Linked DNA regions of Homo sapiens: regions 2, 3 and 4 are each linked to region 1. Evidence: fine-mapped expression QTL. A gene starts in region 1. Each other region holds a variant in brackets. All regions are shown on one strand. Distances are between the middles of the regions. Region 1 holds the start of THBS1 (thrombospondin 1). Region 2 holds the start of LINC02915 (long intergenic non-protein coding RNA 2915). Region 3 overlaps LOC105370777 (a long non-coding RNA gene). Region 4 overlaps LOC105370777 (a long non-coding RNA gene).

Region 1 (8,262 bases):
CTGTACTAAAAGAACCTATGCCAAAGCTGAATATAAATCAGGGTTGGGAAAAAAAAATGAATGTTCCAACCAGGTTTTATTTACCTGACATTCAACACTTAGTCTTTGAACTAAGGTAGGTAAATTATTCAGATGTCTTAGTAGATTCATTCTCTTAGATACTTAGCCTGGGGTATAATTAATACTTTGATAAACCATCTGAGAGTTTAAAGAAGAACTTATAGATGCCATAATTGCATCTTAAAGAAAAAAAAAACACTTTGTTATCAGGCCATGGAACATAAAAAGAATCTCTGTGGCGATTAGGGTATTTCCCCAAAGATGTAGGTTCAAACAAAAGCCGTCGATTCTTATTCTGGCTGGTGAAGGTCCCTTACCTGACAGTGACACTCAGTGCAGCTATCAACAGTCCATTCCTCGTTATTTCTGTACTGAACTCCGTTGTGATAGCATAGGGGAGGCCGCCTCAGCTCATTGGCCAACTCTTTGTTCTCTTCAGTCTAAATGGGAGAGAATATCATTAGTGTCCCCCCGCATTTTCAGTCATTTGGGACCATCTGCGATAAACCTTCCAGGGTTCATGCTAACGGGCTGGGTGCAGAGGCCACTGACCACTTTGCGGATGCTGTCCTGCAGCGTGGTCACAATGGTGCGCAGGCCCCTGAGTTCCAGGACCATGCTGGACAGCTCATCACAGGAGATGCCGCAGATGGCTTGCAAGTCCTTTGTCTTGTGGCCAATGTAGTTAGTGCGGATGGCAGGGCTGGAACCATTCACCACGTTGTTGTCAAGGGTGAGGAGGACACTGGTAGCTGGCAAGAAACAAAATGAAAACTTCAAATAGATACTCTTACCAACCAGCCTCTTGAGTTCTTAGTGGTAGAAGACGTTTCATTTGGTGTGAAGGATGCAGGTAGAGGGGTTGCGTGTATGCGCACGTGTGTATACGTGTGTGTGTATAATACCCCTTGGAGTCACTTCTGTATGCCTCTTGATGATCTCACTGGGGGTAATTTATGTATAACCACTATTGCTAAATTCCTCAGTTTGTTTTTGGTGGAATTCCCCCTGATTCCCTATGTGCCCTAAAAATAGAGGGGTACTCACAGCTGGAGCAGCCTTTGTTCCTGAGGATGTCTTCTGGTGTGGTTCCAAAGACAAACCTCACATTCTGCAGCACCCCCTGTGGGCAGAGGACACACATTACTTGTAGAATGCAGAGCGGGGTGGGGATGGGGTTGGGGGAGACTGTCTGTATGCTAGGAAAAGCATACAATAGATGTTCTAAAAGCTTCAAAGAGCTGTCTTAAGATCACTATGTCAAAATAACACAGCAACATTAATCGCCAAACAACTTCAAAATCTTAATTGTGACTTCTGCCAAGTCTTGAGTATTTTACAAAGAATTCAGTTATCAGCCTACTTGGGTACACAGGAAATGGAATCTGATCCTAAGCCTAGAGGATATAATGACACTTTCCAGTGTCAAAGAGTTAAATGTGGGAGTTCAAAGCCACCGTTGCAAAGATCTAGAAGTTAAGGCACAGATGAAGCTGTAACAGCAACAACTAACTGCTATTTTAACCTTTTATGTGAGACCAGCTGCATCCCCATGAGGAATCCAATAGCAAAGTGGTACTGATTCTGCCCATAGAAAGTATCCATTTCAAACAAGATTAAAATTGGGGGAATGCATTTGAAATAAGCTCTTTTCTTAAGAGCCTAAGGAGTATCTAAGGCTTGAACAGGCTGACTGCTAAAGGAAAACCATTTCTTGTTTCCTTGAGTAGTTTTCAAAGTGTGCTTCCCAGACCACCGGCATCAGCATCACCTGGTACTTGTTAGAGTTGCAGTTTTACAGAATCCCAGACTCTGGGGCTGGGGTGCAGCAGGGTGAGCTTTCACAAGCCCTCCAGGTGATGCTCATGCTGCCTAAAATCTGAGAACTGCTGCGTTAGTTTACAGACAGGATTTCCTGTAGCCCTCCTGGCAGGTCACCTGTCTAGCAGATGATCCCACGGAGCAGGGCTCAGAGAAGAAGCCTCACCTGGAAATTGTCATTGACGCCCCCCTTTGCGATGCGGAGTCTGGCGATGCTGGCCAGGTCTCTGGTGAAGACGCTTTGGATGGGGACGTCCAACTCAGCATTCTCCATCTTTTCACAGTCGATGTACAGCTGGGCCCTGTCTTCCTGCACAAACAGGGTGATGCTCTTCCACTGGCCGGTTGCCAGGAGAGCTTCTTCCACAGACACCACGTGCTGCTTTCCTTGGACGGTCAGGCTGAGGTCCAGGGTGCCCGCCTTGCCATTGGACACCACGCTGAAGACCTGGCCAGAGTGGTCTTTCCGCTCCAGGGCCAGCAGCGTGCCCCGGGTCTTCTTCATCTGCCTCAGGGATGCCAGAAGGAGGAAACCCTTTTCTGCCCGCACAGCATCCACCAGGTCTTGGAACTTGTCATCAGGCACAGGGGGGATCAGGTTGGCATCCTCGATGCGGAAAGCTGGGCTGGAAGGGTCGGGGCCCTTCACCAGTCGGCGCCCAGACCCCTTGCGGGCGGCCCCGGTGAGTTCAAAGATGTCAAACACGCTGTTGTCTCCGCCAGACTCTGTTAGACAGGAGAGAACACAAAGTGAGCTTTCTAGGCTGGGACCAGCAGTAGGGGGCTGAGTCCTTAGGGGTGGAGACAAAGGGTTGGGGTGAAAACTCCTGGCAACCACTGAAAGAGGTGAATAAATACCAGGATCAGAGTGAAGCTGCGTCCTGATGTCCAGTCAGGCTCAAGAGGGAGAGGACAGCACGTGAGGGGGCACACCTGGGATAGCCAGCACCTCTTCCTTGTCCCTCCTTCCCCTAAAGGTGCCACACAAACTCACCTGGAATGCGGTTGGTGCCACACACATGCATCAGGAACAGGACGCCTAGTCCCCAGGCCAGCCCCATGGTGGAGCTGTTGGTGCCCAGCAGGGATCCTGTAGCAGGAAGCACAAGAGCCGAGGGTCAGAGATCAGCTAGGCAGGGAGGGACGGTGCGCAGAAACGGGGCTGGGCATGGGGACAGGGCCGGGACCATCCCTCTTTGACCCCGCGTTTGCTGAAATGAAGGACAACAGGATTACTTTCCAGAGAGCATGAGAGAGAGAGAGAGAGAGAGAGAGAGAGGTGGAGGAAAGAGATGCTGGTTTTAAAGTGTGGGGGGCGCAAGACCAACAATTTGGGGGCTTTTGGGAAGTCGAAGGTGAGCAAGATCAGGAACTGTAGTTTGGGGTTGCAGGGAGGGCAGGGGAAGTACAGACTCTTCCCTGGAGTGCTGATACAAAGGCTTAAGGAGGACTTCAGAGAGTAAGGAAATCTTGGGGTGTCCTGATGAGTTGGTTTGTGAACCTCAAGGCTGGAGAGGATGGCTCTGGAGCCTTGCCCTGAAGAGTCCTCCAGCGGCTGAGAGGAGCGGGCTGGGGTAGGCGAGCGGGGAGAGTGTAGGTTCCGGGGTCCACCAGAGGGACTGAAGCCTCAGCGCTCCAGGTGGATGTCCCGGGCAGCTTTGGTCCTCGGCGGCCGCCGGGGGCGACTTACCTGTGTGTACCGGAGCGCGGCGGCCGGGAGCGGTGGCGAGGGCGGCGAGGGCTGGAGGGGCGCGGGGAATGCCTGTGCGTCCGGAGTAGAGGTTGCTCCTGGAGAGCGACAGGAGCCCTGAACTCGCAGGCCAGCTCGGGCGCAGCGGCTGGCAAGGCGGAGGAGCCGCGCGCTTTTAAAGGGGCGCTCGCATTCCTGGGGATTCCTCCGGCCAATGGGCGGCGGCCGGGCAGGAAGCGGGAGGTGGGGGCCAGTCTGGGCTCCTCTCTCCGCCCCCCGCTGCCTGGCGCGCAACTTTCCAGCTAGAAAGTGAAGGGGGCGGGGGTCGGGGCTTGGGAGCACTAGAACTTCTCAGAAAAGTCGGTGCCCGCCCACGCAGCCTTGGCGCGCACGGGCTCGGCGCTCGTACTCTTGCGCCACGCGGGCTCGGGGTGATCAGCAAGCATCCCGAAAAGGGACGGGGCTGGGGAGACCACCTAGGAGGGCCCGCGGGGTGGCGCAGGGGCTTTCGGGCGAGCTGATCTCCCGGAATGCCTGGTTGATGGCGAGAGGTGGATACTAGAGACTGGGCCCGTTTTGTAAAAAGAAAAATGGGCCGACGGGGCGCAGGGGACACCAAGAGAGCCATTCGTTAAAGTACCTGCCCCTCGGGCCCTCGCTGACTCTCCTCCACCGTCCCCGTGGGGTGAGGACACGCGTCCCCCGAGCGCCTGTCCTGAGCTGGCCCCACGCCCGCCCCGGAGGGAGGTGAGCGCGGCGTCGGCGGGGCCGGCAGGTTGGTGCGCCGCGTTCGCCTTCGCTGCCTTCGGGCCCTTTCCTGCCGCGGCTGCCAGGGGGCCCACAGAGACGCCTCTCCCGCTGCCGCGGCGCTCCCTCGGCCGGCCGCTTGGGGGCGGTGTGCGTATTCTCATCAAGGGGCCCGGGGAGGACAGCTGCTTTCTACTCGAATTTTAAGGAAACTTACTCGTATCCAGTTTCCACAAGCCAAATTGAAATTGTGTCTTGAAAAACAGTTTTTGTGCCCACTCGTGCTTCTTAACGTGACTCCTGTTTGGAGAATTTGCAGAACCATCTGGCTCCAGAGTCTTCAGCTATTTACAGAGCAGACCCATAGAGTAATAAATTACTCTCTGCCTATTATTGTATTTCCCTTTTTCCTCCCTAAACGTTCTTTTCATTTTTCGGCTCCTGAACCCGAGGTGTGGGTTACATTTCTGTGGGTGCACACATTGCCATGAGTGCCGCTGCCTAGTGCTTCTGTCATTGAAGTCTGGTCTCCAAGCCACTGTCCCAAGCCAGCATGACTCTAGCTTCCTGGAATTCCATTCATCTCTTCGGGATGGGACGTCAGCCGCCTCGCTCCCTCTGCTGTGATCCAGCGCTATCGGGCTCGCTCCGAGGCCAGGGCATAGGTAGAAGCTTGACCAAATAAGGATCTCAGCACGGGCAGGGGGAAACCCCTGGGGTTCACCTCCCATCTTAGCACTTAAACCTGGCAGGACTCCCGACTGCTGCAAACAGCCAAGTGTTTACATTCATCAAACAGCAGTTTCGCTTTTCTTGCGTGGGAGTGTTGTATGACAAGATGGTGTGTGTGTGTGTGTGTGTGTGTGTGTATTACGGAAAGAGTGTTTTCTAGTTACTCAATATGTATATAAAATGCCTCTAAAAGATGACCGGTATGTTCCTAAGGCACATGTTTGTTGGATTTCAGATGTTGGGAGGCAGAAAGAAAAGTTTCTACTGGTTGATGAATAAAATCAGATTCTTGTCCCGCAAATCATAGGTAATGATTCATCCAAGCAGATCTGAAGATTCTGGAATCGGCACCCATCCATCTCCCTCCCCTTCCTTCTCCTTCTACAGCATTCATCTTGCTCTTCGAAAAGTAATTGGGTTTTTTTTTTCTTCTTTCCACTTGCTCCATGATACTGGACAGTCAGAAATAGTTCTTGGAGGGATGGGCCGCTCATGGCTCTGGGCTCCTCTGGCCCACTGGATCATTGTGTACAAATCAGATGGGGGCTTGAGGGCTGCAAGAGGCCCACAAAAGCAGAATGCATCTTGTATGAAAAGATTATCTCCCCTAGGCTTAGCTGTGCAGACAGAGTAGAAACCAGCACTCACTGCCCCTTCAGGATTCATGCTGCCATGGCTGAGGGATTGTAGGAATGCCTCTGCAGATTTCTTGGAACTTGGCTTCTTTCAACAAAACAAGGACAACAGTTTCCAAACTTCATCATGCTTTACCAATAAGAAGGTGACCTATACGGTGGCAGGAAAGAGCTTTCTTATTAGAGAAAGCTGACAGGTATAGGAGCTGCTTATCTCAAACACAAAGCCCTTCCTCTTATCATGATACTTCAGTTGTTCTGGGTGGAAAGGAAAGGTCATAGAAGAGGGAGTGTCTGCGCCCCTTAACAGGAATTCACCCACATTCTTGCCAGCCAACATGTGCTGCAAATATTCCCCAAACCTCATATACCTCTGTGCAGCTTTGAGAGAAGCAGGGATGGGAAAAGGGAAAAGAAAACCTATCCCCTTTAATGTGAGGGCAATAGTCCATTTTGAGTGTGTCTCTACAACCTGGAAGCACTGTGATTTTAAGGCAATCAATTAACATGGGCCGAAGTGATGGACCTTTCAGGGAGCTGGTCCAGTTCTCTTTTTTGCCAAGTTGTCATCCTTGAGGATTAGTTACTGAAAATTGTAAGGCATATGGCATTTCACCGTAGGATTTCCTTTTTCTAAGTTTCTCTAATTGGAGGTGGGATTGACCTAAATACATTGGCAGTAAGTGTGAGGAAAGGGCTGTCAGTTACAGCTAGTTTTAAAATTGCGTGTAATTAAGGAGAGCAACATAATTGAGAAAAAATATTTTGTTTATTTAGCATAGAACAGCAAGGTGGGCTGTGATTTTGTGTAGGAATTTTTTAAGTGTTGCAAATTTTCAGTAGTGGAACATTTCTTACAAGTGTGAAGCAATGAAAAATCATTGTATTCTAGAATAGTCTAAAATCATAGCATCTTCAAATTGAAGACATCATAAATTCATTTCTCTCTGAATATGTTCCCTAGATCATAATTCTAAGTTGCTTTACTTTAACTGCATCAGAGGTCAGAGCCAGGAGGAAGTTACCAACAGATTTTTCTTGTCCTTCAATCAAACACCAATTCAAGCTCTCCCTTCTCCATGAGGTGTTTTCCATCTGTTTTATGCTGTGTGTTTTAAAGCACACATTATCTCTATCATAAAACTTATCACCTAACACTCTTTATTATTTAGTTTTTAAAAATTAGCTTTTATTTTTTCACATGTAAAGACCAGAATTTTTTTTTGGTGGGGGGTGGGATGGAGTCTTGCTCTGTCTCCCAGGCTGGAGTGCAGTGGTACAATCTCAGCTCACTGCAACTTTTGCCTCCCAGATTCAAGCGATTTTCCTGCCTCAGCCTCCTGAGTAGCTGGGATTCCAGGCGTGTGCCACTACATCCAACTAATTTTTGTATTTTTTAGTAGAGTTGGGGTTTCGCCATGTTGGCCAGGCTGGTCTCAAACTCATCACCTCAGGTGATCCACCCTCCTTGGCTTCCCAAATTGCTGAGATTACAGGCGTGAGCCACTGTGCCCAGGCAAGGACCAGACTTGAAGTGCCCAAAGCCCTGGGCTTGGGAAGAGAGAGTTCTTATGTTTAAATTTCCAAATCTCTTTGTGTACAAGTCAATTATGGCACAGAAGGACGGGACTACTCACCATTTTCCTACCAGCTCTACCATTTTACTCAGTTATCCCTTAGCTCTTGGTGGGTAAATGTGGTGAGTGACTCACAAACATTGTACTCCTCTTCAAAGAACTGAAGCAATACTTTTATGGAATTGATCTCAGTGGGCAGGGGTAGGCATATTGGTTAAGGGTAAACACCTCCTCCCCTTTTTCCCACTTCCCTGCCAGTGACTGATTTAGGAATTGGCATGTGATTCAAATCTGACGAGGTTTGCTGAAGGCTTCCGGGAAAAGTCCTTTGTTGCTTTTAAGGAAGAGCCATGTGAAATCAGGCTTTCTCCATCTCTTTTGGATACCAACAAGAATGCCGATAAGTGCTGTTTGGTGCTATTGGCCACTGGGGAGCCAAGTTTAGTGTGAAACCAGTGTTGGAGGAGGAAGAACAAAAGCATAGAAAGAACTCGTATGTCAGGTCACATTTTTGAGCTGCTAAATCTCTCAACTCTTAAGGGAATCCTACTTCTAGATTTCTTTGGTTATGTGCTTATTATTTAAGCCAAGTTGTTGTTTTCTATTTCTTAGAACCGTAGACATCATAACGGCCCCTTTCCCTGTGTTTGGATGGCCTTTTCACTCATGCTTTGATTAAACCTCTTCTTATTCCTTTAGAATAAGAGAAGTAAGGATAGGTCATAGGATAAACACATTGTAAAGGCTCTTCACCTATATTACTAAGATGCTTTCCAGAAAATTTGCACCATTTACTGTCCTGCCCATGGCATGAGGCAGCCCTTCCCCCTATCTCTTTGCCTGCAGCCACCCTAGTTCCACACACTCTTAACTGCAGGCTGGTAAGGGTGAGCGTTATTTCCGATTTTATTGTGTCTTTGTATCCCTCTTTTGGGTAACTTTGAGATGTAGTCCAGCAGGTTCATAAAGAAAAGAATAACCAGGATGGATGGATTCCAGT
Region 2 (8,262 bases), 330 kb after region 1:
TAAATGACATAAATCTATTTCTCATTGTTCTGGAGGCTGGAAGTCCAACATCAGGATTCCAGCATGATCAGATTCTAGGGAGGGCCCTCTTACTGGCTCCCAGATTACTTCCTTTTACTGTGTCCTTACCTGACAGAGAGAGGCAGAGAGAGAGAGAGAATCAGTCCCTTCTTTTAATAAACCCACGAGTCCTATTGGATTAGGGTCTCACCCTAATGACAATGACCTCATTTAACCTTAATTAGGTTCAATGTTCCATCTCTAAATAAAAGCCCTATCTCCAAATACAGTTACATTGTGGGGAAGTGGTTAGGGCTTCAAATATGAATTTTGGGGAGCACAATTCAGTCCATAGCATATAGATATGTGAGGATTAAGTGATTAAAAGGTCAATTTTTTTTGAATGCCTATTTAAGAAAAGTCATTTAGGGGTTTCATTTTCTTTAACACAAATCACAAGTTTAAAATGTGACTTTAACCCAAGTCACATTTTCTTTAACTCAAAACTCTTTAAAAGTTCTTGGTCAAGTATTATCATTCATTGAATGATGTTTTCCTTGGTTTGAAAACTAGTGAAGGGTGATGGGAACTTGTGGCGAGTTAGGGAGGAGAAGGGGCGCAATCTTAGCGAGGAAGAGGGAGGAGCATAATGGGAAGAACATTTGGTGCAATATTCGCTGAGTTCTAGCTCAGATTTAATCTAAGTTTTATCAGTCAAATGGAGACCTTGATAATTACTTTTTAAAAAAAAGTTTTATTGTAATTGACAAATAATTTTGTATATTTATGGGGTACAATGTGACTTTTTGATACATGTATATACACTGTGGAATGAGCAAATCAGGCTAATTAGCATATTTATTTTCTGAAACAATTATTTCGTTGCGGTAAGAACATTAAAATTCTCTTTGTTTAGCTATTTTGAAATATATAATACATTACTATTAACTATAGACACTGTGCTGTGCAATAGAACACCAGAATTATTCCTCCTAACTGAAACTTTGTATCCGTAGAGCAATGTGGACATTTTCCCTGTCTAACTCCCCACAGCCAATTCCGGGTTTATACCCAAAGATATTTAAATCAGTATTTCAAAGGGATGTTTGAGCTCCTGTGTTCATTGCAGCATTATTCACAAGAGCCAAGATAAGGAATCAACCTAAGTGTCCGTCAGCTGATGAACAGATTTTTTAAAATGTGCTGAATATACAAAATAGGATACTATTTAGCCTTAAAAAAAAAAACAGGCAATTCTGCCATTTTCAAACAGGGATGAACCTAAGGACATTATGTTAAGTAAGATAAGTCAGGCACAGAGCGACAAATACCATATGATCTCACTTATATGTGGAATCTAAAAAGGTAGAAATTGTAGAATTAGAGAGTGGAATATTGATGACTACTTCTTAATGTGTATTTGGAGTTTGAATGACTAAATATACATAAAGCGCTTATATTTGAACATATAAGATGTTACAGATATTTTTTCTGTCCCTTGCCCCATCTTTCCTAGTATAATAAAGTTATGCTACAAGTTAGTCACTTACGAATTCCAATTTGAGGATTCAGTTTGTGACTTTTGCTGGTTCTGAGAAATCAAGAAATACTGAGCCATTGCATGAACAGTGTCACTAAGTATAAGAACCTGAGAAGTTCAACTTCAACAATTCTTAAAGTCTCCCTTGAGTAGAAGGTGAATGAACTGTCATAATTGGGCAAGAAGTGAGTTTATTCTGATTGCAACAGTAGGCAGCTATTAAGAGACGAGTGTAACTCTGGATAGAAGTTTCTATGGTTTCTGCCTTCAGCCTTGTCATGTTCAACATTCTAATCAAGACCTAGATCAAAGGAGAAGTTGATGAGCTTAGTATTCAGCTGAGAGAGATGGGCTATGTTGGCTAGAAATTAAGCAATGAGCTCAATCTAGAAGATACAAGTTCTGAAGTTGGACTCTTAGAAGCAACTGAGGCTCAAGCACTTCTGTAGGCACTACATTCTGGGTAATTTAAAAAATGTGTATACTTATTCTCACATCCTTTAAGCTCAGCTGAAATCTACTCTGCAAAGTCATGCTTGAACCCTTGCTTTGAGCTAAGTGTTCTGTCAATTCCAACATATACACCTGTAATAAAACTGCTGAAATAATGTTAAAGACTCTTTAAAGCCAGGATCTTTACCATATTAATTTTCGTACTCCCAATGTCTAGCGTAGTGCCCAGCACATAAGGAATTTCCAATAAATTATCGGCTGTTGCTAGAATAAAAATTCAAAAGTAGGCAGTGTTGAGTTGGCAACTTAATTTTCTAAAAAGTATTAATTGCCTGCCTATATGGACAATAGAAACAACAACAACAAGAATATCCTGCCAATAAATCAGGCTTTTTGGCTGGTGCCTTGTAGTGCCTTGTAAATATTAGTAAGCATGTTTCCTATTCTAAAGTAGGTTTAAAAAAAAAAAAACTTAAATTCAGTAACTTCGTTTCACCTTCTTGAAGAACCTGCATTTCCTTTACATTTATAACCATTAGAGTGAGGCATGTTAAATAATTCAAATGAGAAATCCTAGTTTCCACCTTTATGTATCTCTCGGGTTTTCCTTTGTTCACCCAGTCTCCTGCAAAAATCATCAAAT[G/A]TTCAAATTTATAGTTTGTGACTTGGTCACCCTGAACCTCTTGGTGACCCGGAATGAACATGAGATGCTGTTATTTAGCACTTGGAGCTCAGTTAGATATTAGTTTTCCTATAGTGAAATACTCTGATGCCAGTGAGGAAGGAAATCAGAAACAGGAATCAGACGATTCTGGCCAATCCTCCCAATACGAGGAGAGTGTCACTGACGGAAATGGGTCTGGATACTGGGTTTCTCTCTCCTAAATCCTTTGATGCCAGTTATTAAAATGGGTTACTTCTTACAGCCATGACATTGAACACTTCAATGAAATGATGCAAGATTTGGACTCCAAAATGTCCCCTCTCTCCCCTGTCAGCAGCATGAGCCTGAGCACGGCAAGAGTCAGCCAATATAGTGCACACACGCTTTGTTGAACTCATGTTCTTCCACCCAGGAGACTGAGGTTTCTGTGCAAAGAGTAATGTCAATCCGCTGGAAATCACTGGGTTGTCTGTTTCTTTGTTTATGACTTCTCCATATAGTTGGTTCTGCTCCAACTTATTTGAAAGGGACATCTGTTGGATGATTTGATGTGATGTCTGTTCCCTGAAAGTCATTTCTGACAGGGCGATGTAAAGGAACCTGAGAGGGAGCTCCGTCATGTGATGAGTGGCTCTTAAGTGCAGGAACAGATTTGAGAGGATTATCCAAGACAGTAACTTCAAGATCAAACTAGGCCATGGAGTTAGCCATAAGGCTCTGCAAATTCTTTGCGGCTCAGCCCTCTGGGGTCTCCTGCCACCGTGCTTGCCAGTAATGAATTTCACTTCCATGTGGGATCTTTCAGGTCTTCTTGACACACTGAAGCCATATGTGTTTCAGCCACTTCAGACATCATCCTGCTCTTTAACTTGAAGAACAGTCTAAGTCAGTGAGGTTTGCCATGGCATCAAATCTCCTTTTAAACCCACACCGCTTGAATAATAACTATGATTCTGGATAGTTGACTCATGAATATTTCCTGCGAAGGAACAATGAGGGTATTCTGAGGAAATTAAATCCATACAAGTAATTCCCAAACTTTATTCATGTTTGAATACTTTCTAACTTCAAATGTTTTTACCAGACTGGTAACACATAGCAAAATCAACTGATAAGATTGTCCTTTTTTCTTTCTTCCTCTTCCTCTACCTAACACTTCTCTAGTGTGGTACTAACTGGAGAAGGCACAAAGAGTAAGTAGATAGAAAGGGAAATGAAAAGTCAAAGAGCCCTACACTTTTTTTTCCCCCCTCTCTCCTGGTAGTCCTACTTCAAAGGCAGTGTAGCTTTCTCAGAAAGGCCAACCCACACTCAGAGGGTGAAGTTGGAAAACCCCAGCAACCCTATGATACACAATAAACCCATGTAAGGAGGTGGTCCCTTACAAACAGTTGGCTATGAATATCTTCTTTCAAATAGTCTGACACTCGTGGCATAATTATTTTTGTAAGAGTCCTCAGGAAAGTCTGTTTTGAAATACTGCATAGCTTAAGACTACAATAGTACCTTGCATAGTTCAATGTAAACATATCCAGGTGGCTTGTGAAGAAGAGAGGAAGCCAGAGGTGATGCTTCTCTATAGGAAAATGACACTGCAGCCAGCCCCCCGAATCCTGAGAAGACCCTAAATACACCACTCCCCCTCCCCGACAACTACCCAAGTGATATCCTGTGAGTGACTGGATTCTAATCTATCGAATAGTTTCTGTACATGAAAAAAAAATCAATTTTGGAATAAGAGTTGCCAGCAGAAAGATTTCCATTTATTAGGCACCTACCAGGTGCCTGATTCTATTGGGTACATTAAAGATATTCTTTCATTTAGTTCTCACCTGGAAACTCTCAAGGCTTGTTCACATTTTACTGATGAGAGAAATAAGGCACAAGAAGATTAAACAAACAATCCAGGCCAACTCAAGTGGAGGGATGTGTGGTTGAGTTCAGGTCTGCCTGTAAATCGCTTGAGGCCAGAAACTTTTCTCTATTTTGTTCACTGATGTGTCCCAAGTGCCCAGAAGAATGCCTGGCAAATTGTAGCTGCTTAGTAAATATTGAATGATTACCTTAATGAGAGAATCCAGCACGTGTACTCCTAAGTATTATTCTCTACAGTTTCTCCTCAGTCTCCTCACTCCAGTCTGTTACCTGCCCCTTTCTCCCATCCCATTTCAAAGGGAAATGGAGCCCAGAGCTGCAGTGGATGCTGTAGAAAGTTATATCTCTGTGTACATCCTGCTGAAGGAATGGAGCGATTGTCAGGGAGCTGTGTCATTGAGTCTGAGGCCTTACTTCCTTGCTCTCCCCCTTCTATTTCCTGCTTCCTCCCACAAAGATTTTCTGAGTCCTTGCTGTGTGCTGAGCACTGGAGACTCACTATGAACAAAGTTGGTATGGTCCCTGTCCTTATGCAAATTATTGAATAAATTATAGGTACGGTGAGTGTTTTGACAGAGAGGTAAGAATGTTATAGAAACATATAACAAGAGGACTCAGACCTATTCTTTGAGGTCAGGAAAGACATCTTTGCAAATTTTAACTTTAAGACAAGATATTAAGGATAATTAAGAGTTCCTAATGTATACCTTGGGTTTCCTGGATGTCTCTGCCTAAGACACTTTTAGGGAGGAGTTAAGACTGTTTTCCTATAATACTAAGAAGTCATTTGCCTTTTCATTCTTATTGCATTACAAGTGTACAATGGAGTTTTACAGAAGCTGCATAACATAGATTTCACAACAGATTGAATGCAGAAGCAGACATGAGAATCCATTTATCCTTTAGTAAGCCAGATATTGGTAAGATTTGCAAAAAATGCATAACAGCACTACTAGTCTCACTCATGTATTTTTGGTTTTGGAAAACGTGGCTATGTTTTCATAAAATGTTATTTATGTTAAGGTATAATCAGTTTACTATGTTGTTTTAAAATGAATTAAATATTTAAAAAAGAATTGGTTCTAATTTGCAACATGATATAATGATATAATCTACCTTTTTTAAAATGAAAAGGTCTTTGGGGTTCTTCAGAAGATTTGAGAGCACAAAGGGGCCGAGCCCCAAAAGTTTGCGAATGGCTGAGCTAAGAGAAGAGGAGGAGGGAGTGTTCCACAGTGAATAAACAGCCTGTGTAAAAGCCCTTCCCTGGTATACGACTTGTAGTTTTGAGGATATTAAAGAAGTCCAATGTGGTTGGAACATAGAAAGTGATGGAGAGAGAATATAATATGCAGAACAATGGGTAAGCAGTGCCATATTTGAGAGCAATGACTTAATCTTAGGTCAGTGGGAAGTCACTGAAGGGTTTTAAGCAGGTTGGAATTGATGAGATACATGTTGAGAGAGGAAGGAAAAGGAAAGAAGAAAGGAAAAGAATGGGGGGACACAGAGAAGGGAGGTCAGGAGGCTTTTGGGGAAAACTTAGTAAGCTATGAGGGAGGGACAGTAGGGCTGGATAGAAGAGGATAGATGTAAATAATATTATGGAGAATCTAGAGGACTTGGGTTTGATTGTCAGTAGAGAGTGACTTGTTTTGTAAAAGAAGGAATGAATTTTCTCATGGTTTTTTAGTCATACCACTTGATTTTAAATTCTAGCGCTAATTCTGTGACTGTGAGCAAATTATTTAAACTCCATAAGCTACAATTTTCTCATCTGTAAAAAAAACAGGAACAAGAGCCACAATTTCATATGGTTGTTGAAGTTATTTTAAAATGCACACATATCTAATATAACTGGATTATCGTAATTATTTATTTGTTTCCCTTACCTTCTCTTTAACTCTCTTTCTTACCATTTTAAGATGGAGGGGGGAAGTTGGCAGTGTTCTTCAGGAAACATAAATTCTTGGGAAGGGAGTTTGGACACCATATGCAAAATCTCCTCCTGTGATTCCTCTACACACTGGAGGTGTGCTTTCCTCAAGCACTTGAAGCAAATGTGTTCTCTAGTCTCTTCTCTCTCTCTCTTTTTTTCCCTGAAGACTACTCTGTCATTTAAGTTCAGTTATTTTTGTCTTACCTGCTCACTTTGGACTTGAAACTTTGTCCCGTTCTTCTTGTTCCATAGTCTGATTCCTACTATTTTTTTCCTTCACCTTTCTCTTCCCAAAGTCTTAGGCTAGCCTTCTCTATTTCTCAGCTTTGTCATGCCCTTGACTTTGCAAGATTCTCTTTCCTGGCAACCACCATCTACAGACAAAATATTAATAACTTTGGAGGAGTTAGGACAGAGGCATTAAAATTATTGTAAATAAAGCCAGATAGTCCTTTTGACTGGGTCCTGAACTACCTTCTGTTATTCCTACAAGTATCTTTTGAAAGGCTGTTCTCAAATGCGTTGACTTGAGAATTTAGAGAAATATTCTTTCGGGCTGAAGGGAAAAGAGACAGAGAACTACAAGGTCACAGGACCATGACAATATGTTGCCTTTTGCCAAGTGGCCCTTATTAAACAGCCTAGGAGGTGAGTGGAGGAGAGCATGGGTCTGGCAGTCTGCCCTGGGACAAGGAGCTTTGTCTGCACGCAGGTTCCCAGCTCACAGACGGTCCATATTTGAATAGAGCCCATTGTTTACCACTTGGGTGGAAAACAGAGGAAATAGGCAATGAGTCAGGCACCCACTTGTTTCAAAAGGAATTTTTAAAAGAGTTTCAGGGAAATCTAAGAGAAAAATAGAAGTTTGAAGGAAGATGAAGGAGACAAGGACAAACTGAGGGCTGCTGGATGCTAATGACATGCTTTTCTTTGCTGATAGCCTATCATTCTGGGTCTGTGGGTTCCAACCCTGAACCTGAATCCAACAGGAAAGGTACTTCTGGAGAAGAGCTTCCACTCTGGGGAGGCATTCTGACTAAGATCTAATCTGAAGTAGTTTGGAGTAAATTGATCTGCCTCTTTTCTCCATTTAAAGGACATTTGCTAAAAATGCCTTCTTCTTCAAAGGGCCCGCAGAACAGAGAGAGGGGATTACAGTGTGTATAATTTTTGAAATATGGTAACTGATCAGCAAATGGCATAAACTTAGATCTTATACAGGTCCTGTTTTCTGTGACATGATTTCCTGATCTGCAGATGCCCTGACTGACATTCCGCTTTCCTATGGCTCAATGCTTGGTGTAGAAATGGTCTTTCCATTTTGTCATCTCATTTGGGAAAAAATGCATGATAGTGGAATGAATGCCACAGAAAGGAAGGAAATGAGTTGGTGTCTATGGCAAAGACTCAACTATGTTCTGCTGAAAGCTCTGGTTTGCAGTCCAAACTTGATATATTATCTATTTTTTTTAATTTTCAGAAACCTTATTTTTTTCCCCAAATTTGGAAAGAAAGGAATAAAATTCAGATATTACAGAAAAAAATCTCAAGGAAGCAAGTAAAAACAACCTGTAATCTGATCCCCAGAGATAACCAACATAGTATAATGCTGTATATCTTTTAATATATAAAATAGTAAAATATGTGTATATATGTATATATAATTAATGGAATATTTTATACATTCTTGTTAGTAACCTAAATTTTTCATCTATAATCTGTATCACAATTTTTATGTTATGATATATCTTATTCTTCCTCAACATAATTTTGGAGGCTGTTAAAACATTA
Region 3 (8,262 bases), 230 kb after region 1:
GCCTGAATGCCCTACCCTCACCATCCCCACCACACCCCTTTTGCCTGGGAAATGATGGCTTGTCCTTCACTTCTTAGTGTCAAGGTCACTTTCTCAGGGAAGTCTCCTCTGAAGCCCCATCCTCCAGCTCTGTGCTTTCATAGGACCCTGTACTTCCCTTCATTGCATTTATTAGTATTTTAATGAATTACTTAATTTTGTGCCTGTCTGCTTGATGACTATGTCCCAGACTAGATTAAGCTTCATAAAGACAGTAGTATATTTTTCATGGTCTTCCCTGAATTCTCAGTTCCCAGTGTTTAACGTGTAGTAGATGGTCAGTAATTTCTCCCTCAATTAATGGATGTTAAATTGTGTATCTCCTATTTGAGTCTGAGTTCCTTCACAGCAGGTGATGGCTTCTGCTGCCGGGGCCAGGTCTAGGGGCTCCGGCTGGGCTTGGGATATATATATGTATATGTTGTATTGTGATAATAAACATAACATAACATTTACCACTTAACCATTTTTTAAGTGTACAACTTAGTGGCATTAAGTCCAACCATGTTGTGCAGTCATCATCAGACCTGGATTCTGATAGCCAGACCTGTAAGAATCTGTATGGGAGAATAAGACCTATAAGACTCTGTATGGGAGAAGCTGGAGGCAAAGGGGAATCAGAGTGCAAAGTCAAAAGAGAGCTTTCGGAATTAAGGAAGAAGTGAACAATGCAAAACATTAAGTCGGCAAGATGGGCAGTGCATAAGAAAATCTAGATCTTGGGGCAGGCACCATGGTTCACGCCTATAATCCTAGGACCTTGGGAGGCCAAGGCTAGTGGATCATTTGAGGTCAGGAGTTCGAGACCAGCCTGGGCAGCATGGCGAAAATCCTGTCTCTACTAAAAATATAAAAATTGGCTGGGTGTGGTCATGCATGCCTGTAATCCCAGCTGCTCAGGAGGCTGGGGTGGGAGGAGGATCACCTGAGCCTGGGAGGCAAAGGTTGCAATGAGCCAAGATCACACCACTGAGCTCCAGCCTGGGTGACAGAACCACTGTCTTTAAAAAAAAAAAAAAGCTCTAGAACTCTACAGAAGTGGCTTGAAGTAAGGTCAGAGAGGCAAAGAAAGTGGGTTCTAGAGGGAGTTTATCCCCAGAGGGACAAACGTGGTGATGGGAAACCTTCTGTGGGCTTGTAACTGAGTTCGTGGGTGGATGTGCTGGGATGCCAGGGCTGCTGCGACACCAGAGGCCACTTCTTCTTCACCTCTCTATACTTAGAATCTCTTGCAGAGTTTGGTGCTTGAGACGGCATGTAACAAAATGTTTTAATTAAACTTATGCTTTATGGCAATTGCAAAGGATGTTTGGGATGTGGCTCCGGCCTCCTTAACCCACAGGTGAAGGGTATCTGAAATGATCAGTTGCCTCTAGCCTGTTGCATCCCTGAAAAGCTGTTCCAGCTTCTTAGCTTTCAGATGGTAATAATGCTGAGGGGATTGAAGAACCGTTGTTGACAAAATACAGGTTTGCCAAGTTCACAATTTTTACCCAAGAAGCAGGTTGGCTGGGGAATTAGGAAGCAAATGAATGCTAACCTCTGGTGTAGCAGAGTCTGTGAGCCTCCTTGCCCTTTTCCCCTCCTGCCCTGCTGAACTTGGGGGTTGTGGGGTGGTGCTGGACGAAGGACCTCTTTGTAGCCTCTGACAGGTTTTATTTTCTGCCCTTTGGCTCCCTTTGCATCGTTGACAGACTTGCATTCAGTTGCCAAAACCTTAGGAGGGAGAGAGCACGTCCTTGCTCTGACACTGTGGAAAGGGAGGGGGCAATGAACGCTTCTCTGAGAAGGCAGGAAGAGGGATGGCTGTCATTCTGCAACTGCCCTCTTTAGCTGGAAAACCTGCTGCAGCTGAGTGCAGAGTCAAGGCCCTCTGGAAGGGAGGGAAAAGGCAGGCATTTCAGGCAATAGGACAGTGGGGATAAGTTAGTGAAGATGGGAATTAGCATAGAGTGAATAAATAAGCCTGAGGAATACAGAGGGAGCAGGTGGTGAAGAAATGGGCAGTATGGGTAAATAGACAATCTGTGGCCACACGAGAACTAAGCAGAGATGTAGAGGTTTGATGCAACAAGTTACAGGGAGATATTGAACATTTTCAAGCATTAAATAAATTTTCTTGGAAGCTATTGTATTTCATATCCTGATATAGGCTCTGGGATATGATGGTAGGAGAGATTAATGTGGGCCTTCCCTTAAAGAGCATAGAGTTTAGAGACGGGGGCAGGTAAGCACCAGGGAATTACAATGCAGTGCCTACATGAAAATGTACCTTAAAATTAATGTAAAGAAATGAATGAATTAGAAGGTGTAGAAATCAGAATCATGGAGGCCTGATATGAAGCTTTTGCAATAATTGGATACATGTTATGAAGACCTTGAGTGTATAGTGGTGGGAATAAGCAGAAATGAACAGAAAGAAGGTACATTTCTAAGAGGGGACAGTATCTGAAATGAAGTTTTGTCTAACTTTGCATTCAGTGTAATATTTGAATGAATGAATGCTGAACTTTCTGACTCTGGGTTATTTTAAGAAGGTGGCAAAAGTATAGCTACATGATTTTGAAGTTGGGTGACAGAATGGAGATACCGGTAACAGAACAAAGAAGCTGGGGAGAGAGGAAGAGGGGTAGGAAAAAAGGAATATGCTGTGGTCTGAATGTGTCTGCCAAAATTCATATGCTGACACTTAACTGTCCACGTGATAATATTGAGGTAGAGCCTTTAGGAGGTGATTAACTTATGGGGGCAGAATCCTCACAGATGGGAATAGGACCTTATAAAAGAGGTCGAAGGGAGCACTCTTCTGCCCTTCCACCTCTTCTGCCATATGAGGACACCTAGATTGTACGATCTATGAGGGATGGGCCTTCGCTGGACACTGAATCTGCTGGACCTTGATCTTGGAATTCCCAGCCTCCAAAACTATGAGAAATTTCTGTTGTTTATAAATTACCAAGTTTAAGGCAGTTTGTTATAGCAGCAGACATAGACTAAGACAGAAGGGAAAGGAAGGTGTTGCATTTGGCTTAAGAAGACATGTTGAGTTTAAAATGATGGTGGAACATCCCAGAGGAAGTGTCTAGTTTGTAGTTAGAGAATAAAGCAAGCAAGCAAAGAAATAAACAAGTCTTGGAAAGGAGTGTAGGACATTGCTTGTTAGAACAGGCTGTGAGATATTCATTTGGAGTAATTAGTCGGGTAATAATAATGGAATACATCAGACTGAGTTCCATGAGAAAGAAAAATAAAACTATAAAAAAGAGCACAGAATTAAGGATCATGACTTAGAAATTACTCACACTTTTCTCCCAATGATTGGGTTCTGGATTTGGCCTTGCTGCTGGACTTCTTGGTCCCATATGTCTAGGGTGAGGTCTTCTCCTGGCTGCTCACCAAGTTCATCCTCACCTCCTACATCTTTCAATGTTGCTTACTCTATGCTGGGGATTCAGCCTCTACCCAGGTTAACACCCAAGTAGCTGAACCTCAGCTAGTGTTTTCTAGGCTTTTCTTCCCAACAGCTAGACCCTAGCCCAGGGTCACTTAGCTATAACTAGGATCCTAATTTAAATTAGATTAAAATCGTCTCCCCACAAATTCTCAGACTGTGCCAATTCCAGACACCTGTATTTCACCACGGCCTAGATATTTCTTCTGTCGTTCTTTTCACATCAGACCATATGGACTGGACACAAATGCTGGGACCCTGATCTGCCTGCCTAGTTGCACCCTGTCCCTTGCCCCATTGATGTTCATGTCCACATTTCAGACCTGCCCTGGTTTTTTCTCACCTCTTTTCCCACTGGCCCCAGTTAAACTGCTGTCTTACCTCCAAGGTAGAGGGCAAAATAGAGAATACGCGATCCTTGGCATGACCTTCCTCTGGTCCTAGAGAAATGAGTCCCCACTAGGATTCTGTGAATCTGTCTGGATTATTTTATTGTCTTCTTTTTTTTAAATTTGGTAGTCATCTCAGTAGCTTTGAGAAGAACCATCTTTTTATGATGTTCCCACACAGCCTGGAAACCTTTGCAAAATGTTGTGGCCTTTTTGACTCTCAATTATCATCTGAAAATTCCTCAGTGCTTGTCACAAATGAGATGACAATCTAATTAGGAAGCTTGATTCTTCCAAAGACGTCAGCTTTCCAGAAGAGAAACAACTGAAATCATCATGGAAACTAAAAACCATTATGTTTTAGATTTTCTGAAAAATAAGGTGTAATGTAATTTTTTAAATTAGTTGTGAATTTTTCTGAATGTTGCAGCCATTATCCATCAGGGAAGTAACCTAAAATTGTGATAGGAAATCTCATTTGTCAATTTTGCTTATAGAAAATAGTTTTTGAATTACGTGTTTATGAATCAAAATTCAAAATGAATAAA[A/G]GGGTATAAAATAAAATGTAAGTCTTATCACGTCCCATCCCCCAGTTTCCTAGTTCCCCGCCCCACCATTGTTACCACTTGTATAATTCTTTCAGAGATGGTCCTAATGTGCACGCACACACACAAAAACACAAACACATGTATCATCTTTTTTTTTTTCCTTTAAATAGTGTATTATGCAATATTCTGTTTTTTTTTTTTTTTTTTACTTTCCAGTATCTTAGGGGCTATCATTAGTAAGTTTACACAGTGCTGCTTTATTATTTTCAAAGCTATAATAGCATTCTGTTATTTGAATATATATAATTTATTTAACCGATTAATAAATAAGTGTATGTGTTAATGTATTGAAGAGCATTTATATCATTTACAATCCAGGCTATTAAAATAATATCGTAATTAATATTTTTATACTTACTAAGATGACCAAGGGAAAGTGAAAATAGTGTACCTATGCAAGTTTTATTATAGGATAAATTCCTCAAAGTGTAATGTTTGTTTACAGAAATGAGGACATTTTAAATTTTCAGGGATACTATTGTTACCCATTTATACTCCATCAATTCCTACTGATGTATGAAATCTGTCTCTTTGCACCACTGGACAAAGTTACAACACAAAGAAGCTTAACAACAAAGTTTCTATATGAAACTTTATCTTAGTAGAATAAGCATTAATATTGCGAAATAGCAGAATATTTCCATTAAAAAAAATGTTAGACATTTGGCCTAAGGCCATACAGCCCTTCCCAGGTAACTGTAGGGGACCCTTGTGGATACCAAAATTCATGGATTCTCATGTCCCTCACATAAAATGGCCATAGTGTTTGCATGTAACCTATATACATCCTTCTGTATATTTTAAATCATCTCTAGATTACTTATAATACCTAATACAATGTAAATGCAATGTAAATAGTTAAACCATAATATATTTTTAATTTGTATTATTTTATTTTTGCATTGTTATTTTTTAAAATTCATTTTCAATTTTTTTTTTTTTGAGATGGAGTTTCGCTCTTCGTATCCTGGCTGGAGTGCAATGGCACGATCTCGGCTCATTGCAACCTCTGCCTCCCGGGTTAAAGTGATTCTCCCGCCTGAGCCTCCCGAGTAGCTGGGATCATAGGTGTGCACCACCCTGCCTGGCTACTGCTGTATTTTTAGTAGAGATGGGTTTTTGCTGTGTTAGCTAGGCTGATCTGGAACTCCTGACCTCAGGTGATCCGTCTGCCTTCGCCTCCCAAAGTGCTGGGACTACAGGCATGAGCCACCACACCCAGCCATTTTCAAATATTTTTAATCCATGGCTGAATCCACAAATGCCAAACCTGCAAATATGAAGGGCCAACTCTAATTAGCTGCAGGCATGAAAAATGGAATAAATAGCTCTCTATAGTTTGATTTGAGGGGCTCAGAAGACATTGGTATTTTTTCCTTAATATCTTATTGGTGTTTTCTACCAATATTGTCTAATAAATATTTGATGATTTTCAATTAATAAAATCCACTTAACCTATTTTATGTCATATTTTCCTCACAAGAGTCCTTGGAAATAAACAGGGCCTTGTATTTCAACTCTTTTTGTCCAGATCAAGCACTTGAGCATTAAATGTTTATTTATTTGTTGAAGGTCAGCAGACCAAAGATTCAGGAATTCTTTCTTCTGTGTCTGTGCTCCATACCCTTTCCCTTTTGTGTTTGGAATTAGACTTGCCTGAAGCATGCAAAAGGAAAGAAAATATTATTTCCTAGTTATTTTCTTCTTCTTTCCCCTAAATTGTGACTTTAAAAGTTTATATTTTAAGGTATACTTTTCTTTTTTATTTTTGAGAAAGAGTCTCCCTCTGTCACCCAGGCTGGAATGTAATGGCGTGATTTTGGCTCACTGCAACCTCCGCCTCCCGGGTTCAAGCAATTCTCTTGCCTCAGCTTCCAGAGTAGCTGGGATTACAGATGCTCGCCACCACTCCCAGCTAATTTGTGTATTTTAATACAGATGGGGTTTCACCATGTTGGCCAGGCTGGTTTTGAACTCCTGACCTCAGGTGTTCCACCTGCCCCAGCCTCCCAAAGTACTGGGATTACCGTCATGAGCCACTGTGCCCGGCTTAAGGTATACTTTTCTTAATGCGCAAAGTGTGCTAAAAGTTTGAAAGTAAATGCAAATTTTATGAATTGAATAAAAAAGCTATCAGAGTTGCTCATTTTTCTAAACAAAGACTCTAGTAAATCTTTTTGGAAAGAAATATTTTCCAAAGAAAAAGAAAACTCCTATTTTACTTGTAATGAAAATCTGAATTATAATATGTATGTCACTTGAAATGTTTTTTCTTTGTGCATTTTTCTAATGTTCCCAAAATAGTCCTTAGAAAAAAAAGGGGACTTATTAAACATTATTGTCTGACTCCCTAGATTATTTTATGGTTAATTATTCTCTATTCTTTTGCTCTTACATATAATTAACTTTTGGGACTATGTAGTGCATTAAGAAAAATCCGTCTTTTAATTTAACATAATGATTAGATATCATCATATTGAAAGGCCAGAAAAACTCCACCATTTGCCACATAAGAGGGATTCATTAATTACTAAGTTTTGTTGACTAGCAGAAGACTAATCCAGTATCATTTGTGGTGCTATCTTTTTGTTTTTTTCGGAATAGATGCAGATTTTACCATTTGTTCATGACATGTTGATATTCTTTGTGTACCACGTCATGCAGTAAATATGAATAGCAGTATGAAAACAGCACATTTATGTGTTTAAAAAGTAAGTTTTGGTTTTCTCCAAATTACTTTATCCTTTGGTGTTATGAAACATACTGACACTAGAATTCTTTCTAACAAGAATTTCCTCCTTAATGGGGAGAAAGGATAATGGCAATTGAAAACAAATGTTGCTTAGGCATTTTACAACATTGTAGAATTTCCACTTAGGGGCACATTGGATTCTTGACCAATTCGGCTCAAGAGTTAGGGATTCTTTGTTTTGAGAACAAAGACATTACGAGAGATTTACGTGAGAGGCTCTTTGTTATGGCCTAAGCATCTGCTGAATTGTCACAATCCACTTGGCTAAATCACTGTTTTATGTGAGTTCAGTACTTTTCTGTTATTAAAAAAAAGGCAATGAAAGCACTGAAATTTAGGAAAAGATTTAACCAAAGCCTCTGGGAGAAGGGGAAAAAAATGGAGAGCACAAGGTGATTTAGAAAAGAGTGTCAGCTCTAGAGAGTTGAGCCCTCTCATTGTTACCTTTGACAATAGACTTTACCATGTTTCCTCATGAAACAAAACAAAACAGTTCTTTTTGTTACCTGATGCCCCTGGTATCATCCTGTTCCTTCAACAACAAACTCGAGGAGATTTCATTTGCATACTCAGTGTGGGTACCTTCTGGCTACTCTCTAGCTATTCATCAAACTTTGTGTTTTAGAGCAGGGGTTGGCACACTTCCTGTAAATGACTGGATAGCAAATATTTTTGTTTTGTGAGCCATATGGTCCCTGTTGCAACTCTTCAATTTTGAAAGCAGCAGACATTGAACTCCGAAAGAGATGATTTGTAAACAAATGAACGAGTCAATGCATATTTACTTACACAATTAGTGAGTGAGCTGGATTTGGCCTACAGGGTATGGTTTGCCAACTTTTGTGTTAGAGGATGGGTAACTTTCCATTTATTCATTGTTGATTTATTCATTAACTTAAGTGTTTATTGGGTACTTACTAATTGCCAAGTACTGTAAATAACTGTATTCTAAACTTCACTTTGCTTTAACAGAAGAGAACCAGCAAAGCAAACTTATCAAGCAAATTAACAATGGCAACACTA
Region 4 (8,262 bases), 320 kb after region 1:
CTTCAAATAACACACTGTTATTTTAGCACGTAAGTACCAAATATGGCTACAAAACTGCATTCAGTGCATGAAAGATCATACTTCTTAGGTACTAAGAGCCCCACAATGAATGCAAATCATACCCCCACCCACCACCCCAGACCTCCCCATCCCTCCAGTGAATGAAACATTTCTTTAAATGGAAGCACCACTAGATAATGATAACATTGCTACGCTATGCTGGGATTGACTGGACACCCTTATAGCTTGAAGGGATTCAGCCTAGAGTGAGTTCTTTGTGGGGCTTTTAGTACCTAAGTAAAACTAGTACAGCTTCATAGTTTCCATTTTTTTAGAATCTTGTCTATTGTTATCGTTTAATTAACAAGAACAATCAGTATAGGCCGGTCTTTTCTTAACAAAATAGTTTAGTGAAGCTTGTTTTCTATCTGTAAGTTGGGATTACCATTAATAATATGAATTTCAGTTCTCTAATATAGCTAATGACAATAAAAGTAGATTTCAGACAGACTTGATTAAAATTAAAATTAGTGTAAGCAAAAAGTTACATATCTCATATACATTTATACTTTTTCTGATTTTTAAACACTTTTGGGTAACAGCTGACAAAAGTATCCTTAAAAGTCACACTTCATGCAATCCTATTGTACATGACTAGTAGGCAGCTTGCATTACATGTGACTCACTAGGAAAGGGTGACAACTCACGCTGTTTCAGCGATAAGTGTGAAATTGCTATAAAAGCATCTAAACGCTTACTGTCAAATTTCATAATTATCTTGTCACAGACCCACAACAAATAGCTTGTGGATTGTCACTGGTCCATGAATGACATTTTGCATAGCACTAAAATAAATTCCTCCCCAAAGGCCCTTATGAAACCATTATAAATTATCTAATATCTCCTGAGAGATGCTGGACTGATAAACTGCTCTCTCAGACGCTAAGATTACGGATTAGATTTGGCCATGATTGTCAAAATAAAGCAAAATAATGCCATTTACACAAGAGAGCAGTTCTTTTCTCACATGAAAGGAGTCTGAATTGGAGGTGGGAAAGGTAGTCAGTGATTCTTTGCATCAGGGATCCAGGGTTCTTCTGTCTTGTTGTTTCACTGGACATGGCTTTCTTACTCAAAGAACTTCATCATCCAAAATGGCTACAGGAACTCCAGCCATCAGATCCACATTCCAGCTAGCTGGAAGGAGGCAGGTGGGTTGGTAAAGCAACTCCTCTTTTTAAGGAACTTCTTGGAAGTTGCATTCACTGTTATGCGTACGTTTCATTGGCAGAAGCTTTAGTTGCTAAGCCATACCAAATTATAAGAGATGCATTCAGTTGTCTATTTGTCTATTGTTACCATTTAGTTAACAGATGCATTCAATTTAAAATATTATAATCAACTTGCTTTTTTTTTGCATAAGAACATACTTTTTATGTGAAGGTTTCCAGTCCAGGTGCTAGACTGGAAAGTTTTCCAGACAAAAGCATGAATAACTTTGGAAAATGGCTGTTAGGAACACTCATGACCTAGGCTGAAAACCTTCAAGGGGAGACTGCCTATGCGAGGTGCCAGGGATATGGCAGTGGACAAGGCAAGGGCTGTCATCGAAGAGGTTGCAGTCTAGTAGAGGGGTCACAGGCAAACAGGGAATGGCAACATGGTAGGAAATGGGCTTTGAAGGATACTGCTGGAGTGATTTCACAGGAAAATACAAGATTTCAAATTGGAATCAGATGCAGGCCATTCTTTTGAAAGTGATATGTCCTGCGGAAGTCCTGCTGATTAGCTAAAAATATATTTGAAGACAGACAGATTGACATTATATTTGTTAACATAAAACTGCCAGTTTGTTTCCCTAAATGCAGGTCAAGCCTAGGTAGGAACACCCATGATTAGAGAAATCCCAGGTCTTAGATATCCTAGAAAGAAGGCTCTCTGTAGCAGCACATTATTAACAGGAGTTTATATCCCTCCACATAAGAAAACATAAACTAGGAAAAGGGGCTTTTTGTTCTTTAATCATAGATGAATGTGGTTTTATCAGTAGAAGTTATTCACCTATTAAAAAATGTCCACTTGTTCAGATTAATAAATTAGAATCAAGGGACTTCTAAAATGCTTGCACGTTGGTAAATATGTGAGTATAGACATAGATATGTAGATATTTTGTCAATTATATATGTATATATATACACATACATATATGTATATATACACACACACATATGTATATATATACACACACATGTGTGTGTATGTGTGTGTGTGTATATATGTATATATGTATATATACATATATATATATACTTAAATTCTAGGGTACATGTGCACAACGTTCAGGTTTGTTACATAGGTATACATGTGCCATGTTGGTTTGCTGCACCCATCAACTTGTCATTTACATTAGGTATTTGTCCTGATGCTATCCCTCCCCAAGTCCCCCAACTCCCGACAGGTCCCAGTGTGTGATGTTCCCCGCCCTGTGTCCAAGTGTTCTCATTTTTTAAATTCCCACCAATGAGTGAGAACATGAGGTGTGTGGTTTTCTGTCCTTGTGATAGTTTGCCAAGAATGATGGTTTCCAGCTTCATCTATGTCCCTGCAAAGGACACCAACTCATCCTTTTTTATGGCTGCATAGTATTCCATGGTGTATATGTGCCACATTTTCTTAATCCATTCTGTCATTGATGGGTATTTGGGTTGGTTCCATTTCTTTGCTATTGTGAATACTGCTGCAGTAAACATACGTGTGCATGTGTCTTTATAGCAGCATGATTTAAAATCCTTTAGGTATATACCCAGTAATGGGATGGCTGGGTCAAATGGTATTTCTAGTTCTGGATCCTTGAGAAATCACCACACTGTCTTCCACAATGGTTGAACTGATTTACACTCCCACCAACAGTGTAAAAGCGTTCCTATTTCTCCACATCCTCTCCAGCATCTGTGGTTTCCTGACTAATGATCGCCATTCTAACTGGCACGAGATGGTATCTCATTGTGGTTTTGATTTGCATTTCTCTGATGACAGTGATGATGAGCATTTTTTCATGTGTCTGTTGGCTGCATAAATGTCTTCTTTTGAGAAATGTCTGTCATATCCTTTGCCCACTTTTTGATGGGGTTGTAAATCTGTTTAAGTTCTTTGTAGATTCTGGATATTAGCCCTTTGTCAGATGGGTAGTTTGCAAAAATGTTCTCCCATTCTGTAGGTTGCCTGTTCATTCTGATGATAGTTTCTTTTGCCGTGCAGAAGGTCTTTAGTTTAATTAGATCCCATTTGTCAATTTTGGCTTTTGTTGCATTGCTTTTGGTGTTTTAGACATGAAGTCCTTGCCCATGCCTATGTCCTGAATGGTATTGCCTAGGTTGTCTTCTAAGGTTTTTATGGTTTTAGGTCTAACATTTAAGTCTTTAATCCATCTTGAATTAATTTTTGTATAAGGTATAAGGAAGGGATGCAGTTTCAGCTTTCTACATATGGCTAGCCAGTTTTCCCAGCATCATTTATTAAATAGGGAATCCTTTCCCTATTGCTTGTTTTTGGGAGGTTTGTCAAAGATCACATGGTTGTAGTTGTGTGGTGTTATTTCTGAGGCCTCTGTTCTGTTCCATTGGTCTATATATCTGTTTTGGTACCAGTACCATGCTGTTTGTTTTGGTTACTGTATCCTTGTAGTATAGTTTGAAGTCAGGTAACATGAAGCCTCCAGCTTTGTTATTTTTGCTTAGGATTGTCTTGGCAATGCAGGCTGTTTATTGGTTCCATATGAACTTTAAAGTAGTTTCTTCTAATTCTGTGAAGAAAGTCATTGCTAGCTTGATGGGGATGGCACTGAATCTATGAATTACCTTGGGCAGTATGGCCATTTTCACAACATTGATTCTTTCTATCCAAGAGCATGGAATGTTCTTCCATTTGTTTGTGTCCTCTTTTATTTCGTTGAGCAGTGGTTTGTAGTTCTCCTTGAAGATGTCCTTCACATCCCTTGTAACTTGGATTCCTAGGTATTTTATTCTCTTTGTAGCAGTTGTGAGTGGGAGTTCACTCATGATTTGGCTCTCTGTCTGTTATTGGTGTATAAGAATGCTTGTGATTTTTGCACATTGATTTTGTATCCTGAGACTTTGCTGAAGTTGCTTATCAGCTTAAGGAGATTTTGGACTGAGACGATGGGGTTTTCCAAATGTATAATCATGTCATTTGCAAACAGGCACAATTTGACTTCCTCTTTTCCTAACTGAATACCCTTTATTTCTTTCTCTTGCCTGATTATCCTGGCCAGAACTTCCAACACTCTGTTGAATAGGAGTGGTGAGAGAGGGTATCCTTGTCTTGTGCTGGTTTTCCATGGGAATGCTTCCAGTTTTTGCCCATTCAGTGTGATATTCGCTGTGGGTTTGTCGTAAATAGCTCTTATTATTTTGAGATACATACTGTCAATTTTTGTTTAGACTTATTTCTTTGTGGATAAGACCTTGCTGCTGCGGTCTGTGAACCAGACATTTATAATAAATCAGAAAGCAGCTACCTTCACATATATCCAATTATTGAGTTCTCTCAAAGAGGGATTTTTTTCTAGTATTTTAAAGCTTTGTTTTTCATAGATCTTATCTTGTTTTCTTTCAGAGGTTTCATTCCATTCCCCTATTGTTAAATTCTTCCAGATTGCTATTTTTGAAATCTGCCTCAGAAGAAAGCTATTATGGAGTCTCATATTTGTGGGATTTTCTAATATTTCCTTTACATAGCCTTTCTCAATAATTTTAAATCAAATTCATTAGTTTTCCTTTGGCAGTCTCAGGGCAATTGTTTTTCACATCTCTCTTGGAACTCCTATCAGGTCAGGTGTTAAAGTTCTGCAAGGGCAGCATTGGTTTCCACTCCCCAACCCACCTCTAGATTGAAACATTTTTGAGAAAATCAGTGTCTCATTTATATTCTCTCCTTTATCATCTATTGTGAACTGGATTGTGCCCTCTCCCATTCATATTTGGGACCCTAACCCCCATTGTGACTGTATATACAGACAGCAGCTTTAAGAAGGTGATTAAGGTTAAATGAGGTTATAAGAGTAGGGCTTAATATGATAGGAATGATGTCTTTATAAGAAGAGGAAGGGGCACCAGTAAACTGTCTCTCTCTCTCTCCCCTCCCCCTTCTTCTCTCCTCTCCTTCTCTCTCTCTCTCTCTCTCTCTCTGTCTCTGCATACAAAGAGAAAAGTTCATGTGAGGACACAGAGAGGAGGCAGGTGTCTGTCAGCCTCAATATAGACACCAAATTTTCCAGTACCTTGATCTTGGACTTCTAGCATCCAGAACTGTGAAAAAATAAATTTAAGTTGTTTAAGCTACCCAGTGTGTGATATTTTATAACAATAGCCTTAGCAGCTGAATACATTATTCAGCATATAATTCCTAGTCAATAGGTATTTGCTTGTCTACTATTGACTATAACTCATTTATTATGGGGAAAAATTTGGTTTATAATTATCTTACATTCTTGTCACAAAAAGCATCTCTAAGAGCCAATTTAAATGCTTTTCCCCAACTGCTTCCCATAAACACACACACACACACAGGCACGCACACATGCACACACCAGGCATTAGCCATTTTGAGTTTAAAGAATGGCCAGTAAATTTCTTTTC[A/C]TAATCATGGAAATTTCCTAATTGCACCCTTTGGATAGGAGAGACATGTTTCTCAAGAATCCTGTTCCTTGGAAGATATGTCATTCTTTTATGTTTGTTTTTGATGTCTGATTCCATAACTCTTTGCTCAGTTGTTTGTCATTGGAGGGATCCCTGCACCTGTCCACACAGGAAGGTGGAACAAAGGGGAAGGGTATATTTTAAGCAGCATGGATTCATTTATTCATTCATTTAATTATTCAGAACACTTTTATAATATCTACTCTTTTCCAATCACTGTTCTGGGAGCTATAACTACAAGGCTGAAAAGACAACATGTCCCTACTTTCAAGTTTACAATCTAGTGGTGGATGAGGCAGGCAATATACATATGAACAAACAGATAAACAAGGTAGGTGTAGATAGTGATAAGTTCTCCAGAATTCTAAGGACAGCTCTCCTCCACCTTCCAGAAACTAGTAGGGCCCACCAGGTTAGGAGCCATAGATCCTGAGGGGACCCAATAGTCTGTGAGTTGCCCCCAGGATCTTATATGTGGCTGACACATACAATTTTTCAGTTTTAATATTTTATCGTCTTGGTTAAATACCTATCTCATTTAAGTGACAAGTGCCTGGGGTGCTACTTTTAGCAAGTTTGTAAAGAGGAAATGTCAACTCATTCTATGTAGAGGAGAGATCTTTTTTTATTTTGTTTTATTTTATTTTATTTTATTTTATTTTATTTTATTTTATTTTATTTTATTATACTTTAAGTTTTAGGGTACATGTGCACAATGTGCAGGTTAGTTACATATGTATACATGTGCCATACTGGTGCGCTGCACCCACCAACTCGTCATCTAGCATTAGGTATATCTCCCAATGCTATCCCTCCCCCCTCCCACCACCCCACAACAGTCCCCAGAGTGTGATGTTCCCCTTCCTGTGTCCATGTGTTCTCATTGTTCAATTCCCACCTGTGAGTGAGAATATGCAGTGTTTGGTGTTTTGTTCTTGTGATAGTTTACTGAGAATGATGATTTCCAATTTCATCCATGTCTCTACAAAGGACATGAACTCATCATTTTTTATGGCTGCATAGTATTCCATGGTGTATATGTGCCACATTTTCTTAATCCAGTTTATCATTGTTGGACATTTCGGTTGGTTCCAAATCTTTGCTATTGTGAATAGTGCCGCAATAAACATACATGTGCATGTGTCTTTATAGCAGCATGATTTATAATCCTTTGGGTATACACCCGGTAATGGGATGGCTGGGTCAAATGGTATTTCTAGTTCTAGATCCCTGAGGAATCGCCACACTGACTTCCACAATGGTTGAACTAGTTTACAGTCCCACCAACAGTGTAAAAGTGTTCCTATTTCTCCACATCCTCTCCAACACCTGTTGTTTCCTGACTTTTTAATGATCGCCATTCTAACTGGTGTGAGATGGTATCTCATTGTGGTTTTGATTTGCATTTCTCTGATGGCCAGTGATGATGAGCATTTTTTCATGTGTTTTTTGGGTGAATAAATGTCTTCTTTTGAGAAGTGTCTGTTCATGTCCTTCACACACTTTTTGATGGGGTTGTTTGTTTTTTTCTTGTAAATTTGTTTGAGTTCATTGTCGATTCTGGATATTAGCCCTTTGTCAGATGAGTAGGTTGCGAAAATTTTCTCCCATTTTGTAGGTTGCCTATTCACTGTGATGGTAGTTTCTTTTGCTGTGCAGAAGCTCTTTAGTTTAATTAGATCCCATTTGTCAATTTTGGCTTTTGTTTGCCATTGCTTTTAGTGTTTTAGACATGAAGTCCTTGCCCATGCCTATGTCCTGAATGGTAATGCCTAGGTTTTCTTCTAGGGTTTTTATGGTTTGAGGTCTAACATTTAAGTCTTTAATCCATCTTGAATTAATTTTTGTATAAAGTGTAAGGAAGGGATCCAGTTTCAGCTTTCTACATATGGCTAGCCAGTTTTCCCAGCACCATTTATTTAAATAGGGAATCCTTTCCCCATTGCTTGTTTTTCTCAGGTTTATCAAAGATCAGATATTTGTAGATATGCGGCGTTATTTCTGAGGGCTCTGTTCTGTTCCATTGATCTATATATCTGTTTTGGTACCAGTACCAGGCTGTTTTGGTTACTGTAGCCTTGTAGTATAGTTTGAAGTCAGGTAGCGTGATGCCTCCAGCTTTGTTCTTTTGGCTTAGGATTGACTTGGCGATGCAGGCTCTTTTTTGGTTCCATAAGAACTTTAAAGTAGATTTTTCCAATTCTGTGAAGAAAGTCATTGGTAGCTTGATGGGGATGGCATTGAATCTATAAATTACGTTGGGCAGTATGGCCATTTTCACGATATTGATTCTTCCTACCCATGAGCATGGAATGTTCTTCCATTTGTTTGTATCCTCTTTTATTTCCTTGAGCAGTGGTTTGTAGTTCTCCTTGAAGAGGTCCTTTACGTCCCTTGTAAGTTGGATTCCTAGGTATTTTATTCTCTTTGAAGCAATTGTGAATGGGAGTTCACTCATGATTTTGCTCTGTGTTTGTCTGTTATTGGTGTATAAGAATGCTTGTGATTGTTGTACATTTATTTTGTATCCTGAGACTTTGCTGAA

Evidence for each region.
Region 2: its variant is fine-mapped to the expression of THBS1 in whole blood (TOPMed, PIP above 0.99).
Region 3: its variant is fine-mapped to the expression of THBS1 in whole blood (TOPMed, PIP above 0.99).
Region 4: its variant is fine-mapped to the expression of THBS1 in whole blood (INTERVAL, PIP above 0.99).

Annotation. Positions count from the first base shown.
Region 1 is chr15:39,576,538-39,584,799 of GRCh38, reverse strand. THBS1 (thrombospondin 1) reads right to left here and starts at 3,721. Exons shown (of 22, transcript NM_003246.4): 1 at 3,572-3,721; 2 at 2,876-2,971; 3 at 2,048-2,607; 4 at 1,108-1,183; 5 at 613-812; 6 at 378-500. The coding sequence starts at 2,942. It overlaps LOC124903470, which reads right to left and starts at 4,993. Exons shown (of 1, transcript XM_047433405.1): 1 at 3,806-4,993. The coding sequence starts at 4,482. The coding sequence ends at 4,048. RefSeq lists silencers at 4,181-4,230, 4,241-4,470 and an enhancer at 3,893-4,630.
Region 2 is chr15:39,247,322-39,255,583 of GRCh38, reverse strand. LINC02915 (long intergenic non-protein coding RNA 2915) reads right to left here and starts at 4,915. Exons shown (of 2, transcript NR_144508.1): 1 at 4,721-4,915; 2 at 739-3,525. All of the region lies in intron 1 of LOC105370777 (a long non-coding RNA gene), which reads left to right. The variant G/A (reference allele first, on the strand shown) is at 2,637.
Region 3 is chr15:39,344,502-39,352,763 of GRCh38, reverse strand. The region is part of intron 1 of LOC105370777 (a long non-coding RNA gene); the gene reads left to right. Among named protein-coding and RNA genes, the nearest start is that of LINC02915, 98 kb to the right of the region's middle. The variant A/G (reference allele first, on the strand shown) is at 4,428.
Region 4 is chr15:39,257,949-39,266,210 of GRCh38, reverse strand. All of the region lies in intron 1 of LOC105370777 (a long non-coding RNA gene), which reads left to right. Among named protein-coding and RNA genes, the nearest start is that of LINC02915, 11 kb to the right of the region's middle. The variant A/C (reference allele first, on the strand shown) is at 5,658.